2 separate regions of the Homo sapiens genome follow, and region 1 is linked to region 2. Evidence: fine-mapped expression QTL. Tissue or cell type: prefrontal cortex. Region 2 holds a variant in brackets; the other region holds the start of a gene. All regions are shown on one strand. Distances are from middle to middle.

Evidence for each region. PIP is the estimated chance that this variant, and not a neighbour inherited with it, causes the effect.
Region 1: it holds the start of TMEM9, and the variant in region 2 is fine-mapped to the expression of TMEM9 in prefrontal cortex (CommonMind, PIP 0.95).

What each region holds. Positions count from the first base shown.
Region 1 is chr1:201,150,915-201,159,016 of GRCh38, forward strand. It overlaps TMEM9 (transmembrane protein 9), which reads right to left and starts at 3,560. Exons shown (of 5, transcript NM_001288565.2): 1 at 2,944-3,560; 2 at 847-938. The coding sequence starts at 3,009. RefSeq lists an enhancer at 2,797-2,946 and a silencer at 3,357-3,636.
Region 2 is chr1:201,129,039-201,137,140 of GRCh38, forward strand. It overlaps TMEM9 (transmembrane protein 9), which reads right to left. Exons shown (of 5, transcript NM_001288565.2): 5 at 5,734-6,777. The coding sequence ends at 6,625. Among named protein-coding and RNA genes, the nearest start is that of ASCL5, 5.9 kb to the left of the region's middle. RefSeq lists a silencer at 5,509-5,715. The variant T/C (reference allele first, on the strand shown) is at 4,899.

The DNA of each region.
Region 1 (8,102 bases), 22 kb after region 2:
GTGCTCGGGGCCCTCCAAGAACGGAGCTTCCTGGCTCCCAAAACTGCCTAGATTAGAAATGCTCCCTCAACTCATGCTTAAGTCGGTTTCCCTGAAGCTTTTATCCTTGGCCCCAACTCTACACCAAGAAACCCCACTGAACATAACTGATCCACACCAGTACCTGCTCCCACATGTCCCACCTCCCATAACATGCCAGCTTTCAATCAATCATCGTGTGTCCCCAAGTCCTCTCCTCTTTAGGCTTTCCTTGCTTCCTTAAACCATTCCTTCCAGGACAATGTGCTAAAACTTCCCTTCACCGCACTAGTCTCCTTTCTCTGAATGAATTCTGGGTTATTCTTCTCTTTTTAAAAGTGAGGTACCCAGAAATGAATTCAACACTCTAAATTATTTCTTTGGGCCTCTGTCTCTGCTATTATAAAATGGGAGCAAAATCCATCCCACCTACTTTACAAGGATGCTATAAGACTGGCACAGAATAACACATGTAACACAGCTTTGCAAAAGCATTAGGTATCCTACAGCATGTGGTCAGAATACCTACCTTTGCCAACTTCTCTACTACTATTCTGTATGCATCACTAAAGACCAATATTCAAAGCAAAACAACAAAATCCACTCCTCTAGCCAGGGACCACTCAGCTGGAATTCAGACACCTGGATCCTGTTTCCACAGACAGTTGACAACTATGAAATTGGTTCTGTGACATGAATAATTACTCCTTTGAAAGGCTCTCCATAGGAATGGGAGAGCATGCTTATCCTCCAGGGTCCAAGAACTCTAGTAAACACCCATAACTTCAACTGGGTATAGCAGCCAGGGGCCTGCGTGTAATGCCTTACCAGTCCTTCTGGGATACATTCTGGTTGTAAATGTGCCCACTGATGTTTCTATAAGGTGGACAGATGCATTTGCACCGGATATCTTCAGAACTCTGGAAAAGAAAGCACATGTCAAGTATGCAGAGACCCTGCCTGGGGTTCAGGGGGTTCAGGCTCTAGCAAGGTTGTCAACTTTCTGTTCCCCATCCTGTTAGGTGAACCATATCTATGCTCTTGAGCTTTCTCCATCCCCAAGTTCAAATCCAGCAAGGACTGCCACTGTAGGAAGCAAGCTGCAGCACCGGGTCCTAAAGATAGAAAAATGTCCAGATGGCAAATGAGACTCACAGAAAGTTGTCTAGGCCTGCCAGTCCCAAAGCAGGTACTTAGAGGAATGCGGGGAGAGGGATGAGGGGAAATGGGTGTGTGTGTGTGTGTGTGTGTGTGTCCTCTACCCCAGACCCCACACTTGTGTGTGCACCTCTGTCCAGTGGACTTGGCAGCCACCCTCTTCCCCACATTCCTTCTCCAACTTCTTAGGTAGGATTGGGGAAACATAAAGGGCGAGGGTGAATAAGAAAAAGTGGATCATTTCTGTGGGAATACTCAAGCAACCCCTTTGAAAGTTCTTCCCTTCTGGAATGAGTAAGAGATATCACCATAAATGTCTTTACTAATTAGGATTTCTGAGGAGAGAATGGAAACAAACTCTCAGCCTTAACCTTACTTCAAAGTCTGGATGATCTTTAGTTCCATAGATCTACCCAAACAGCTCCACAGGAATGTAGCAATAAAGAATGGAAGTTATCTCAGGAGTCCCAGAACTTAGGTGGGTCACCCTTAATAATGGAAACTTCAAACTGTATAGGACTTTACACTTACAGGGCATTTTTACATTGTCATGTAATTTGATTCTCCCTAAGCAGAGTAATAGATACAACTGCTACTACAGGTGGTAGTACTAGCACCCCTAAAACAAAAATTCGAAATGCTCCCAATCTAAAACTTGTTAAGCACAGACATGACCACAAAGATGATGTTAACATTGCAGAAAAGCACCTACAGACATGGTAACAATGAGTGACGGGCTTCTTGAAAGACTATAGCAGAGCGCATTCATAACAGAACAAGAAATCGTGTCAGTCTATAAAATCAAAGAGACTTCTAAGACAAAAGCTTGTTAATGAATCAGGTGACTGGCAAAAACATTTTTAAAAGCCATCTGGCAGAATGCCTCCTCATCTCTAGAGGACCCACTTTCTGGTCCCTCTACTGCTTCAGATACTACTTCTCACCTAAAAAAATACTGTGCACAGTAACCTTTAATCAAAACACAGCATCACAGCAGGAGACAGAAAGCCTTATGTTGCTGTGTCTAACAGCTGATACAGGTATTCTGGTGATGCTACTGTGCTTAGTTACCCTGAACACATCATTTATTTTCACTGTGTTAATAGTACATCATATTTTTTTACCGTTAAGAACTTATGTGTAACGTAAGAAAATATTTATCGGTAGCATATAAATTCATTGTCAGGAATGGTGGTGATGCCAACCAACCAGACTATCCACATGGGTGCCTGAGATAGTGACGCCTTTGCTTTCTGATGGTTCAGTGTAGATAAACTTTGTTTCATGCACACAATTATTGAAAATATTGTATAAAATTACCTTCGGGCTATGTATATACAGCATATATGAAACATAAACGAACTTCAGGTTTAGACTTAGGTCCCCTCCCCAAGATAGCTCATTTTTTATGTGCAAATACTCCCAAATCCAAAAATATCTGAAACAAAACATACTTTGGTCCAAAGCAAAGGAAGGTATGGAGAACTTAGATAACTTCTCCAAACTTCCTTGCTGGAAGTCCACCACTGATCTGTCTGATCAGAGTGAGCCAGTGCTCTGTGCCCCACCCTTCCTCACTCCTCACCCGCACTATCCTTAGGGAGGCCAGCAGCCTTGAACCTGAAGGAAGACCACTAAAAGAAGTATGGCCCATAGGTGAGTGAGAGGCAGGCTTAAGGAGCAGCTGGCTACCTCTGAGTCAGCCCTGTAGACAGGGTGGCCGTGCACTGTGGTCGTGACCAGGTGCTGCAGGCTCACCTCCCTCACCTTGTTGGCTTCAGCTGGGGGCACCAGCAAACACCCGACCACAGCCACCAAAGATAAGAGCTTCATGCTTATCAGGCTTGCTGGGCCAGCAAAGCCGGACACCTGGAAAAAGAGATACGGAGTCGGAGAAGGGGAAGGTGGCCACACCGCAGCCAGCACGCTAGGCCCTTAACCATCCGGCCAAGTGGGAATGGGGTTGGGGGCTGGGCTCCAGGATTCCAAGGCCTGCTAAACCTGGTCGCCAAACCCTGCTTCCCTCCCGCCCAACTCTCCGGCTCTCCGCCAGCCACCTGGTGAGCCCGGCAGAGGGGTCCTCGAGGGGACACCGCTGCCAGGGGCCTCCAGTTCCTTCTCAAGGCCCGGCTCTGACCCGCGCATCACGTCCCACCGCCCTCCGCCATCTCCGCCTCTGCCCGCCCCGCAGCTCCTCCCCGCTCGGGCCCGACGGGAACTTTTGGGTGCGAGTCTGGGACCCCTGCTCCGACGGCGAAGGCCGGTGCCCACCACGCCCAGAGGTCTTAAGCCGGACTGGGACCCCCAATAGCCCCGCGACCCCCGTCCCCTCCCCCAATGCCGCGTCCACGAACCTACAAGCCCGCTGCAGCCGCAAAAGACCCAGTTGTCCCCGCCCTCTCCTAGCTTCTATTGGTTGCCAGAGCAGCCCCTTAACCCGACCGCGCTGTCGCCATGGCAACAAGACCCGCCTTCACCTGGGCGGGGAGACTCTTGCGCAAGGGAGAGGCGGGCATTTCTCAAACCCGACCAAACCAGAAAAGGGAACGTCAGCCTTCCAAACTCCTGGGGAAGGGTCTTGCCTTTGTGTGGCCTGAGAACTCCCACTGCGGTGCTTCTCCCTTCCTTGTATTATAAAACTCAGCTTGTTTCATCTTGCTGTTTTAGAAAGAAAGCGCTTTATACACTGTAAGCTAGTAACGTCAACAAAAACGATACGAGATTGAAGGGCTTTGTCCTCATTCAAAATCTGGAAATGTTATTTAGGGATCCACGTCTTTGCTGCAGAAGACTTTCTGCGCGGCAACGTCTCTACCCCTACACACACCTCTGAGAAGGAGAAATCTAGGGTTGGCGATGGGTGGTGTGGGCTGGGCCTGTGAAGAGTGTGCACAACAGCGTCCTCAGCCTGATCCCCCTACCCCATGCTGGTGCTGGGCCTGGCAAAATGGGGCAAAGTGTGCATGGCCAGGATGCAGGGGTGAGGGTCCCTGGCTGCTATGTGGCAGATGTGAACTTCTTGCCAGCTGTGAAGGAAAGGGGAGTCATATGAATTCAGGGCACCAGACCCGGAGTGAGGACACCGGGGCTTTGGCCCTGGCGCTCCCCCTAAGCAGCTGTGTTAGCCTGGAAAAGATACCTCCCTTCTCTGGGCCTCAGCTTCCCTTACTTCCCTTATCTGTAAAATGATTCGGTTGGATTCTAAGATCCCCTTCAGCTTTGATATGTTGGGATTCCTTAGGGGTGGGTGGGAGGGGTATCAATATGGCCCAAACTTGAGGTTGGTGGCTGGATTAGCATAGGGGCTGGGTCCAGGTGGAATCAAGCCCCTCGCAGGCCCTGTGAACTGAGGTGGGCACTTATCTGGAGGCCACTGAGTTTGTGTTCCTCTCTCCTATGCTTATGTCTTATTCCTCTTTATATCCTTGCCACCTGGCAGAGTGACCTGTGTTTGGTAGGTGCTCAGGAAGTGTTTGCTAAACTGAATTCTATAGAATTAAATTAAATCTAGTTGGCAGGGGGCAGGGGCAGGAGGCCTGCAGTGTGATGCAAAGGTCAGGGGCTTTGGAGCTAGAGTGACCAGGGCAGGAATCCTGGTTCCTCCCTTCCTAGTTGTGTGAATTTGGGTGGTTTCCTTTAGGACACCGCCTTTGGATCTTTGGAAGTCTTTGGAATCCTTTCAGAAGTCTCGGTTTCCATGCCCATAAAATGGGATTAATATTACCAAATTTTCAAGGTGGTTGTAGGGATATAATGAGTTTACATATGCAAAGCACCTAGAACAGCATCTGACACAAAGAGGGAGGCTCTATAAATGGCAATGTTAGCTCATTGTGGAGGTCAGAATGGCTGCTTTGGTGAGCAAGCTCAGGCAGAGACAGAATGCCTACCTCGTGGGGGCAGAAGGGATAGTTCAAGTACTGGAAAAAGACACTTCTTCCCCCCATATACGTTCCATATGAAGGTGGGACTTTCATGGGGACAAAAGCATGGGGCTGAGTCTGTCACCTCCAATGGATGACCCTCTGACACACAACACTAAAGATACCCAATGCTGAGCTCACCATCTTCCTCATCAAACAGAAGGGAGGCCTTCCACTGTCATTCTGCATTTCTGCAGGTCCTAGATTGTGGCATCAAACTATCTTTGACTCCTCTCTCATATTTCCACATCTTGTCTATCCAGGTGTCCCCAGGAGGTAGCTATCATCACCCTGCCTGTATCTTTCCTCGGCTAGCATTCTGCTCCCTGAAATGCACTCCCTTCCTGTGTGCTCCTAGGTCCATCCTGTCTTCCTCCAATTCTGTTTTCAGCACATCGCTCATTGCTCAATCCCTGGTAGCAAGCACCCTGTTGCATCCAATTCAGACCCCTCCACTTGGCAACCAAGCCAAGTGGTTACCATTTCTGCACTTCCCCACCCCATCTCATCACTGGTTACTCCCCCCACCGGCTGTCCCTATATCTGACTTTGCTCATTGCAGTCCTCCATAGGACATTATCACCCCCAGCACTGCCAGTCGTTATCTTTCATCTTATTCAAATCTTTGCCCAAGCATTTGCCTTGCAGAAGCTTTTCCCAAATAGTCCTACCTGACCCAGGGCACCTCATTCCCATACATCCTCCATGTGCCCTGTGTTTATGAGCCATGCCAGTGAAGTGAGTCTGAACCTATTCATTAAATTTAATTCCATAAACATGTGCCAAGCACTATCTGTGAGCCAAACTCCAGGGCTCACAGATGCTAGGTACCCCAGGGATACAACAGACAAATCACATGCAACTCTGCTTTCAAGTAATGCACAACCTAATAGCAGACCAATCACATGGTCAGAATGTAACATAGAAAGTGATGTGTTGTAGAAGTGAAGCAGCCTTGTTGTCTGTGGTGACACTTGAGGTTTGTTGTCTCCTGGCCATGAAGATCAAGGAGGTAGACACACAAAGAGTGAGGTTAAGAGTGGAAATTTAATAGGTGAAAGAAAGACAATAGCTCTCTGCTACAGAGAGGGGTCCTGGAAAAATGAGTTGCCAATTTAAGGTGAAATGCAGGGGGTTTTATAGATGAGCTAGTGGGGAGGCAGTATCTCATCTATACAGGGCATCTCAAAAAAAGTTAGCACCAGGTGTGCCATCTGCATAGGGCACAAATCTCTGGCAGCTCCCAGCCCAATCTTTATTATGCAGGTGGTTTCTCTGCCTGAGCTTCTCCATGTTGCCCAGTTCTTTCTTACTGTACATGTGCTAACAAAAAAGGGAAGGTGGAGTCCCATGGTGAACATGCCTGGCCCCCCGGTAGCCCTTTTCTATGAGTGCAGCTGCCAGCATTCCTCCGTGCAAGCTTCCAGCTTCCTTATATATGTTTGCAGCCCAATCTTTGAGGCTGCTCTGTGTTAGAAAAGAAATGATTTCTAGGGCTGCTTCTTATTAGAAGGGAAGTTCTGCCAAGGACTTTTTTGTCCTTGCTATCTGCCTAAATAATTTCTATCTCCCGTATCAGAAATGCTTTTTCCCTTCAAAAATTTTTTGAGCACTGTGCTAGGTGCTGGGGATATCTCAGTAAACAAGACAAACCCTGTCCCTGTTCCCACAGAACTTGAAGTTTATTGCAAGAAAACCACAAATCAACAAGCAATGACAATTCAGGGTGGTAAGAGCTGTGCTGGGGGAAGGCTGCAGAGGCACTTGGGAAACCTAGACCAAGGGCCAGGGGAGCCCAGAATGGTGGAGAGGGGGCTTTGAGGGCAGTGAGGGCTACTTGGGCTGGGCCAGAGTGGTGGGCAGAACAATGTCGCACCCCCAAATGTCCACATCCTAATCCCTGGAACTTGTGAATACTGTCTTACACAGTAAAAGGCACTTTGCAAATATAAATTAAGGCCCTTGGTTGGGGAGAGTGGCTTGGATTATTCAGGTGGGCCCAATCTAATTAGATGGCTCCTTAACAGAGGAACCTTTTCTGGCTGTGGTTAGAGAAGGAGATGGACATGGAAGTAGGGTCAGAGAGATGCTATGCTGCTGGCTTCAAAGATGCAGGCAGGGGGCCACCAGGCAAGGACTGTGGGTGCTGCAGAAGCTGGTCAAGGCCAGCCAATGCATTCTTCCCTAGAGCTTCTAGAAGGAATGCAGCCCTGTAGACACCCTGATTTTAGTTCAAGAGAACACCTCCGTCAGACTTATGGCCTACAGAGCTGTCAGATAATACATTCGTGTTGTTTGAAGCCACCAGGTTTATGGTAATTTGTGACAGCAGCCATGGGAAACAAATACTGCCAGGAAGGGTGGGCAAAATTTGAGGCACAATTCAAGAGCAGGGTGATGGTGAGGAGGGCATTCTGGTGGGGGGTGGGGGCGGGGGCAGGGGCAGTGTAGGGAGAGCAAAGAGATGGGACTGGGGAAGTTCAGGGAGAGACATGTAGAGAAAGAGTCAACAGTTCAGTTTGTCTTGATCCCAGGACAAGCGAATGGGAAAGGAAGGCAGGGAGCTCAGTGACATCAGAGTCAGAATGTGAGCCAGGAGGGAGCCGGGAGCCCCTGGCTCGGGGCTCAGTGAGAGGGTGGAGACCAGGTAACATCAGCAGTGCACTCTCCCCAGCAGAGGAGGCCTAAGGAAGCTCTGGAGCCTTCCACTGCTTCCTCTCAGGACTTAGCCTTCATCCTGCCTCCAAGTTTGGAGCTCTAGAACTCAGGCCAAAACCCATACCCTCTAGTTCATACCTGCTTTTATCCAACAACCCTAAAATCAGTTTGACTTTATGAGGCGAGGTCTTGGCATCCGTGCCACAGCTGTGGGTCTGGGTTCTTCCTCACTCCCTGTCCCTACCGTTGGTGCTCCTGGATAGGGGATGAGTGCTGTCATCACTCCCAAATGGTGTCTACTCTCCCTGGCATCAACTATATGCCCCTGCTTTTCCTCTAATCCCC
Region 2 (8,102 bases):
CCTGCCCGAGGTCACACAGCGAATAGCAGCGGAGCCAGGGTCAGGGGTCCCGACTCCCAGCCTGGAGCCTTGGCCTCCGTGTCCACCTGGAGGCAGGAATCAGAGGAGCCCCCAAACCTTCAAGAGCTCAGGCGCCCTCAGAGCCAGCACTGCCTGCAGCCTTGGCTCCATGCTCAGTTCCACGCCTCAGGGCAGGGGAGCCGGAGGAGAAGTCGCCCCACCTGGAAGTGTGGAGTTGGACCTCAACAAGGGTGGGATCTAGCTGAGGGGTCAGGGTTTTCTGGAGCCTAAAGCGCCCCTGGTAACACTGAGTAGGAAGTCCCTGTTGAATCTGCAGAACCTTGACTTGATGGCTGGAGGTTATGTGGTGATAGTAATAATAGTGACGTGACCAAGAACAGCCGACACTTGCTGAGCGCTTACACTGCAGAACTCTTCTAAGTGCTTTATACACATTCACAATGCACTCCCTCCGACAACCCAACACAGTCAGTAGTTGTAGCCTCATTTTGCAGTGAGGAAACAGAGCATATAGAGTTTGAATATTTACTCTAAGCTGCCTACCTAGTAAGTGGCAGTTAGGATTTATGCCCAGGGTACTGGGCTCAGTGTTCGTGCTCTTAGCCACGCCACTTAATTTACTCGGTGGAAGATTGGTCATTTAGGGAGCTTTAGGCCCCAGCACCTCATTTGTTGAGGATTTACTACAGGCTAGGCCCTGAGGCCTGGTATTATTAGAGATGAGGAAACCGGCTCAAAAGGGGTTCAGGCATTGCCAAGGGGCAGAGCTGGGTTGAGAACCCAGGTGGCTTCCGGCTTTCGGACCACACTCTGTCCACGGCACCTACTGACTCCCTGCAGCCACACAGGCACTGCCTGTGCAGTGGGAAACACATGCTCCAGTGTTAGACAGTAAATGTTGGCTTGGGGCATCCCCCCTCTACCGCTTCCATCACTTCTTCAAGCTCAGCTCCCGCCTCATCCCCTAGGGCAGGGCCTGAGCTGTGGGAGCTGGTGGGGAGATGAGGCAGCTCCTACCAAGGACACAGAGCCTCATGGGGCAGCCTGGGATTCACTGCCTGCCTGGTACTCAAGACCCCACACCCACTTAGGTGTGCACACATCTGGAGGATCTTTCCAATTCCCTCACTTCCAAGACTCCTGCCAATTGGTTCTGAGGCTAAAGGCCAGAGGAGCAGACATGGCCTTGAGGCCCTACAGGTCTCAATAAAGAACTCACGCCTTAGGAAATGGGGAGCCCCTGATGGCTCTGAAGGAGGGAAGTGACCTGGTCTGATTAAAAGCATACTCTCTGGCACTCCTGACAAGAACCGCAGTATCTGGTGAGAAATGGGGAAGACTGGGACAGTGGTAACAGGGGCTGAGGGGAGGGGACAGATTTGAGGACTATTTGGAGGTAAAGTTGGTGGGACGTTGTGAGTGATTGTACAAGAGAAGAATCAAGAATTGATGACCTTCAGGTTTCTGGCCTGAACAACTTGGTGGGTGGTGGTACCACCAGTTAAGAATATAAAAGAAGCCACCAGGCGCGGTGGCTCACAGCTGTAATCCCGGCACTTTGGGAGGCTGAGGCAGGCGGATCACTTGAGATCAGGAGTTCAAGACCAGCCTGGCCAACATGGTGAGACCCTGTCTCTACTAAAAATACAAAAATTAGCCAGGTGTGGTGGCACGTGCCTGTAGTCCCAGTTACTCCGGAGGCTAAGGCAGGGAATCACTTGAACCTGGGAGGTGGAGGTTGCAGTGAACCAAGATCGTGTCATTGCACTCCAGCCTGGGCAACAGAGCCAGACTCTGTCTCAAAAAATATATATATAACATATATTATTTTATATTATATATAATGTATATTATAAATATTATATATAACATCTATATTATTTTATAATATATAATTGGCTTATTTTATATATAAATATATATTACACATGTATATATTATATTATATAATCATGTATACATATATTATATATTTACATATAATTACATAATTTTATATATTAAATATATATTAAACATATGTACTATATATAATAAAATTATAATTTATATATTGTATCTATATATAATTGTATATAGATACAATATATAAATTGTATATAGATACAATATATAAATATATATTATATATAAAATAAGCCAATTTCAGGACAAAGATGAGTTTAATCTTGGTCTTGGGGTGCTCAGGGGCACAGTCCAACTATGCAGCTTGGGGGCTGGTTAGGGCTCAGCTCAGGGGCTGGTTAGGGCCGGGCTAGAGATAGAGATGAATAAACGCCATGAAACTGCAAAACAGAATAAACTTCCAAAGAGAGTACTTAGAAATTAAATTTTAGATAGAGCCAAGTAGGCTGAGCATGGAAGCCTGGGAAACCAACATTCATGGGGACAGGAAGGGACAGTCAGAAAGGCTCAAGAGGTCAGGTCCCAGAAGCCAAGTGAAGAGTGTTATGGAGGGAGGATCAACACCACCAAATATAGCAGAGAGGGCCAGAAGGACAAGAACCAAAGACACCCTCTGGGCCTGGCGCTCCCAGAGCCAGCTGTGACCTTGCTGAGCGCAGTTTCAGAGGAGCGTGGAGGGCAAGGTCAGTTGGCAGGGGGTGAATGACCGAGTGCACAGAGACAGGGAGGAGACTCCACTGTAGTCAGGGGTGGACCTGGAGCCCCTGGAAGGTTCTCAGGACAAAGACTTGAGCATGTTACCAGGCTGAGGAGAAGTGCCAGTAAATAGGGTAAGGTTGGAGAAATGATGGCGGTCCCAGGCAGTATTGGGCAGGGGGGATTGGAGAAATGGAGGTCCCAGACAGTATTGGGGGTTGGAGAAATGATGGAAATACCATGCAGTATGGGGTGGGCGGTTGGCTTTGAACAGGAACACACTATCCCCAAGGCTGTAGCAAAGGCAGTCAGGATGAGTATGAATGAAGAATGATTTAACAATGGGGCTGAGTTAAGAAATCACTCCATTTTCTTGAAGTCATAAGCAAGATTTTCTAGGGAAGGGAGACGGGGAGACAGGAAGGTTGTCTAGTGGCCTCAAGAGTGAGCCTCATGGGAGGATTATTGGCCCTCATGGGGGAAGGGAGGGGGTGGAGGCCATGCACCTGCCAGGGCACCCTCAGCCTCTGTGGCAGCACTGGGCTGCCCAGGGAGGAGCAGGGAAGTCAGACTGGGTGGGATTGGGGTTTTGCTGGCAGATGTGTAACAATGGATGCCAGGAAACGAGAGGAGGAGGAGGACCAAGTCGGGCTAGGTGAGAAATGAAGGAAAGGCCACGAGGAAGCAGGCTGGCCTCTCCATCAGCCTCCCTGTGAGCCACACGAGGGATGAGTGCTGGTCTCTAATCGTGGAGACCAATTCTTAAGGCTCAGGTTCCCAGGGCCAACCCCAACCAGTTGTTTTTCCAGGTGGGACCAATCTATTACAGAACAGCATGGTTGGTGGGTTTGAGGGAAGACAGGATTCTGAACACAACAGCACCAAGTTCTGTTCCTTTTTTTTTTTTGGAGACGGAGTCTTGCTCTGTTGCCAGGCTGGAGCGCAGTGGCACGATCTCAGCTCACTGCAAGCTCCACCTCCCTGGTTTAAGCGAGCCTCCTGCCCCAGCCTCCCGAGTAGCTGGGACTACAGGCAGGCGCCACCACACCCAGCTAATTTCTGTATCTTTTGTAGACAGGGTTTCGCCATGTTAGCCAGGATGGTCTCGATCTCTTGACCTCGTGATGCCGCCCGCCTTGGCCTCCCAAAGTGCTGAGATTACAGGCGTGAGCCACCATGCCCAGCCAAGTTCTGTTCCTTTTACATCATACGAGACAGGGTGAAGAACGTCATTTCTGATCTTTTCCATCATTGGCTGCAGGGGTCTTCATCTCTGTTCCAAATACCAGCCAAGCAGTGTGCTCACCCCTTTGCTGGGGATCTCCGCCCCTTCATATTCACAGAAAGATGAAGTGTACTCTGCCATCGTCTGAAAATCGGGTTTTGTGTGTGTGAAGTTGAGACACAATGAGACGTTTGGTTACTAGTTGAATCCTTAGTAAAGTGAACAGTCACTCCTAATCTTTTATAAATGTTCATATACTGGACTTATAGTTCGGCTTATTTATAGTTAACAACAGTTGTCCCAAAAACCACCAAAGCCAGTTTGGATCATCTGCAGGACTTACCCAAGCCTCAGAGAAATATAGCACTCAATGTTTCCCCCAGGGCATGTGGTTTTACAGGGGAGACCTGGCAATGTTAGGCACCAATTTCTGGCCTGGTTATTCTTGCTAAGTTAATACACCCACCTGCCCACCTTTGGAAAGTGCTGCTTTTGTATGCCTCTTGAAATAAGAGCATCCCCATCCTGAAAGAATAAAATAGCCCACTGTAGCTTCCACAGCAGTACTTGACCCTGGTAGGCACTGAGCAGCTGTCTAGTAAATGACCCAGTAGAAATGTTGTCAGCACCAACTCCTCTGTCCCAGCCTTGCATTTGGGGGCACATCTATCGCTTGCTAGCCCTACCACAAACTTCCTAAGTGCACTTGCTCAGGACCCCACAATCCACTTGGTCCCCTCTCAGCTGTGTCCCTTGTTTCCAATGCCAACCAGAGTCTCTGCTCCTCCTGGGAGCCCCATCTGCAGGTCACCCCAGTCCCATCCCCTTTACGCTTCTGTCTTGGAACTTTGGCAAACTGTTGCAAACTGACCCCCCATCTCACGTCGTTCTCTTGCCTCCCACACCTCTCCAAGAACCCAGCATGGGGGCCCACACAAAGGTTTTTTTTTGTTTGTTTTGTTTTGTTTTGAGACGGAGTCTTGCTTTGTTCCCCAGGCTGGAGTGCAGTGGCGCGATCTCAGCTCACTGCAAGCTCCGCCTGCCGGGTTCA[T/C]GCCATTCTCCTGCCTCAGCCTCCCGAGTAGCTGGGACTACAGGTGCTCGCCACCATGCCCAGCAAATTTTTTGTATTTTTTTTAGTAGAGATGGGGTTTCACCGTGTTAGCCAGGATGGTCTTGATCTCCTGACCTCATGATCCGCCCGCCTCGGCCTCCCAATGTGCTGGGATTACAGGCGTGAGCCACCGCGCCCAGCCCACAAAGGTTCTTAATCCATGTTTATTTGGACAACCCTGATGACACCAGATCAGCTCAGTCCCTCTAGATGCCTTGCCTCTGCCTGGGTCTTGGACATGCCCTGCACCGCACATCCATACTGGAGCTGACGCAGTGCCGGGCTCCCCTGGATGTCCCTGTTGAAGCTGCTGGCATTTCCTTCTGTATGGGGCAGCTCGTTTTCTAGCTGCCCCCACCCACCCCTCTCCAAATACCTGTTGGTTTTCATTTGGGGATACTTACAGGTTTTGCAGGGAGCGCTATTTACTGTGTCTGTAGGATATTAGGATGAATCACGCACTGTTCAGTTTCAGAGGAACTGCCCATAAACATGAAGTAAAATCTCAGGATAACTCCCAAGGGCCAGTTCACCCTGTGCTCCTTGCCCCAGCCTACCCACCTCTTTCCTAATCAGGTGAGGAGGACTTCCAGCAAGCCGTGGCCTTGGCCTGATTGCACTGTGGCTGGCTCTGCCACGGCCGCCTGGACTTCCCAAGGCTCTGCCTGTCTGGACCTAGCAAAACGCAATGCTCTCTGTCCCCTCTGGGATACTACATTTACCAGGTCACTTGTGAAAAATTCCTAGTTCCCTAAATCTCTTAAAAACCAGAAAGTGAGAGAAATAAAACAATTTAATGATGGCTTCCTTGATTTACACACAACTCTAAGACAAGAGGACAAAATTTTCTCTCCATGCACTGGTACAACGAAGTTCAGGGACAAGAGGCAACCCAAGTACAGGGGCTGTGGTGTTCAGATCCACGCTCAGCCTCGAGTCTCATGTTCCAACCGACCGTCTGGCTCAGTGACTGTGGACACTGGGGAGAGGAGGGACTGCCCAGACCCCTCAAGTGCAGGTGAGGGGACCGGCAGCAGAGTATGCATGGGCACTCCATGCCCCAGTGCGAGAAGTGCACAGGGGACAGCGAACACCAGCTTCCAGTGCACCCTGAAGACCCAGTGGGCTCAGGGGGCCCAGCTCTCCCATCAGAGCTGTCCTCAGGGCTGGAGCTGGGGCTGGGGCTGAGGCGCTGGGGCTGGGAGGGAGGTGGTGATAAGAACCACTGCAGAAAGGAACACATGCTGAATGCTGGGCCATGCTTTCCTCCCAGACACTGAGTTCCTGAAGACCCAGCTTTATCTTCCAAGGGTAACAACATTCCCAAGACTCAGAGCTGGAAGGCGGCAAGAGTGGAGCCAGGAGAGACAGATCGCATCCACTCCTGAGGCCGCCTCGAATGTCTCCATTCCCTTCTGGCCTGCCTTCCCCCTCCCTTCAACCCCAAAGACCCAAGAAGACAACAGAGATCAGAGACCACATCCCTCTTCCCTAATCAAAATAGCCAAGTACAACATTTCTAAAGTTAGGGAGAAGGAGGAAAAATGCCACAGGCTTTTAAAGGGAAGACTGGAACCGAGGGAAGGGAGAAGTAGCCCCCTGCTTTGTCCAGCCTGGAAGCTGGCAGCCATGGTGTTGGGGCCTTGACCCAACCACACCAGCCCATCTAGCTGAGCATCTTGTGCCGATCGAAGACTGTCTTCCGCTGCTCCTGCACCTGCAGCTTCCACCGCTGCTGGGCACCTTCCACACGCTCCAGGACTGTGTTTGCTCGGGGTCCCCCGAGGGATGCAGCAGCTGCTGCCATAGAGCGAGCATCCTGTAGTGGGAAGAAAAAAAGAGAAGATCTGGCACGGTAAGCCAGAAGGGTCTTGGATCCTGAAAGTCTGACATGGAAAGAACGAACCCCAAAGCCTTACCTTCCCCAGACTGGGAGGCTGGGCCTCCCCAAGTGCTGCAGGCTGAGGACCTTGCCTTGTCATCTGCAGAGCTGAACACAGTGTGCCAGGTCTGCTGGAAGCCTTAGTGTCTGTAGCATCTGCAGGATGGGGCCCCTGCCCCTCCCTGGGGCCTGGGAAAGGAAGCACTCCAGGAAGAGTAGGTTCTGCTGGGGCTCCAGTTACTGCCACACAGCTAGCTCAAGGGAGGTTCCCAGCCTGAACCCACCCCTCACCATGCCCCATTCCACTATTTCTAACTCTCAAGAAGGATGCTAAGTATAGGCTTCAAGACCTCACTTAGGCAGAGGACTTGATGACATCTGTTGTTTCAGCAATGCACCGAGGTGCCCCCAGGGCTAGTACTAGGCTAGAGAACTCCCCTGCCCTCCACGCCATTGCCCAGGGGACAGGAAGAAGGCCCAGGGGCTAGGGTCTGGCTACCCTGAGATGGCAACACATCTGCTCCAGATGGGAGGGGGCCTACTGAGGAGTCTGCATAGATCCAGATCCATGGGATCTTAGTTTCCCTGGGAAAGAGGGATGTGACATCACTCAGGGAGTCTGACAGGGATGGAAATTCAGAGCCGCCCCAGCATTCCCTTTGCAGAGCCCTCTCTGGCCCATTCCCTCCTTTGATAGCTGAGGACAGCTCAGCTTCCTCCCTATCTGACTCTGCTGATCCCCTTCCCCTTTGCTTTCAGAACTGTTGCTGCCGTCAAAAGCATCCTCCCCTAATTACCACTTCTCTGCCTCTGAAGCTCCGGAGCCTCTGCATTTCCTGCAGGACCTGAACCTGATCTTTGGAGAGAATTAGAGCTGAGGGCCAGGCCCACACCCCCGTGGGGATTTCCTCCCTAGCTTTCCCTGCCTCTCATCTCCTGCCACACATCTCTTAAGGGATTAGTGCACTTCTCTAAGCCCAGAGCCGCCCAGTAAATGCAACTTTGCTTCTAATGCCCCAAGCTGGCACGGCTTCTGTCACCATGCAGCTGCTACGCTGGGGCGAAGGGGGGTGGTGAGGTGAGGGTAGGGTGGACAGAGAACAAGCTGGCAGTGAGGAGGCTGGGAGAGGGTTCATCATCATCCTCTCAGAGCTCTGAGGACTTCATCTTGTGAGTGCTCCTCTCTAAGCTGCGTTAGAGATGGACACTGCCTTCTGGGAGCCTCCCGCCCAGGTCCTGAGGAAGGCTTCCTGTGCCAGGCT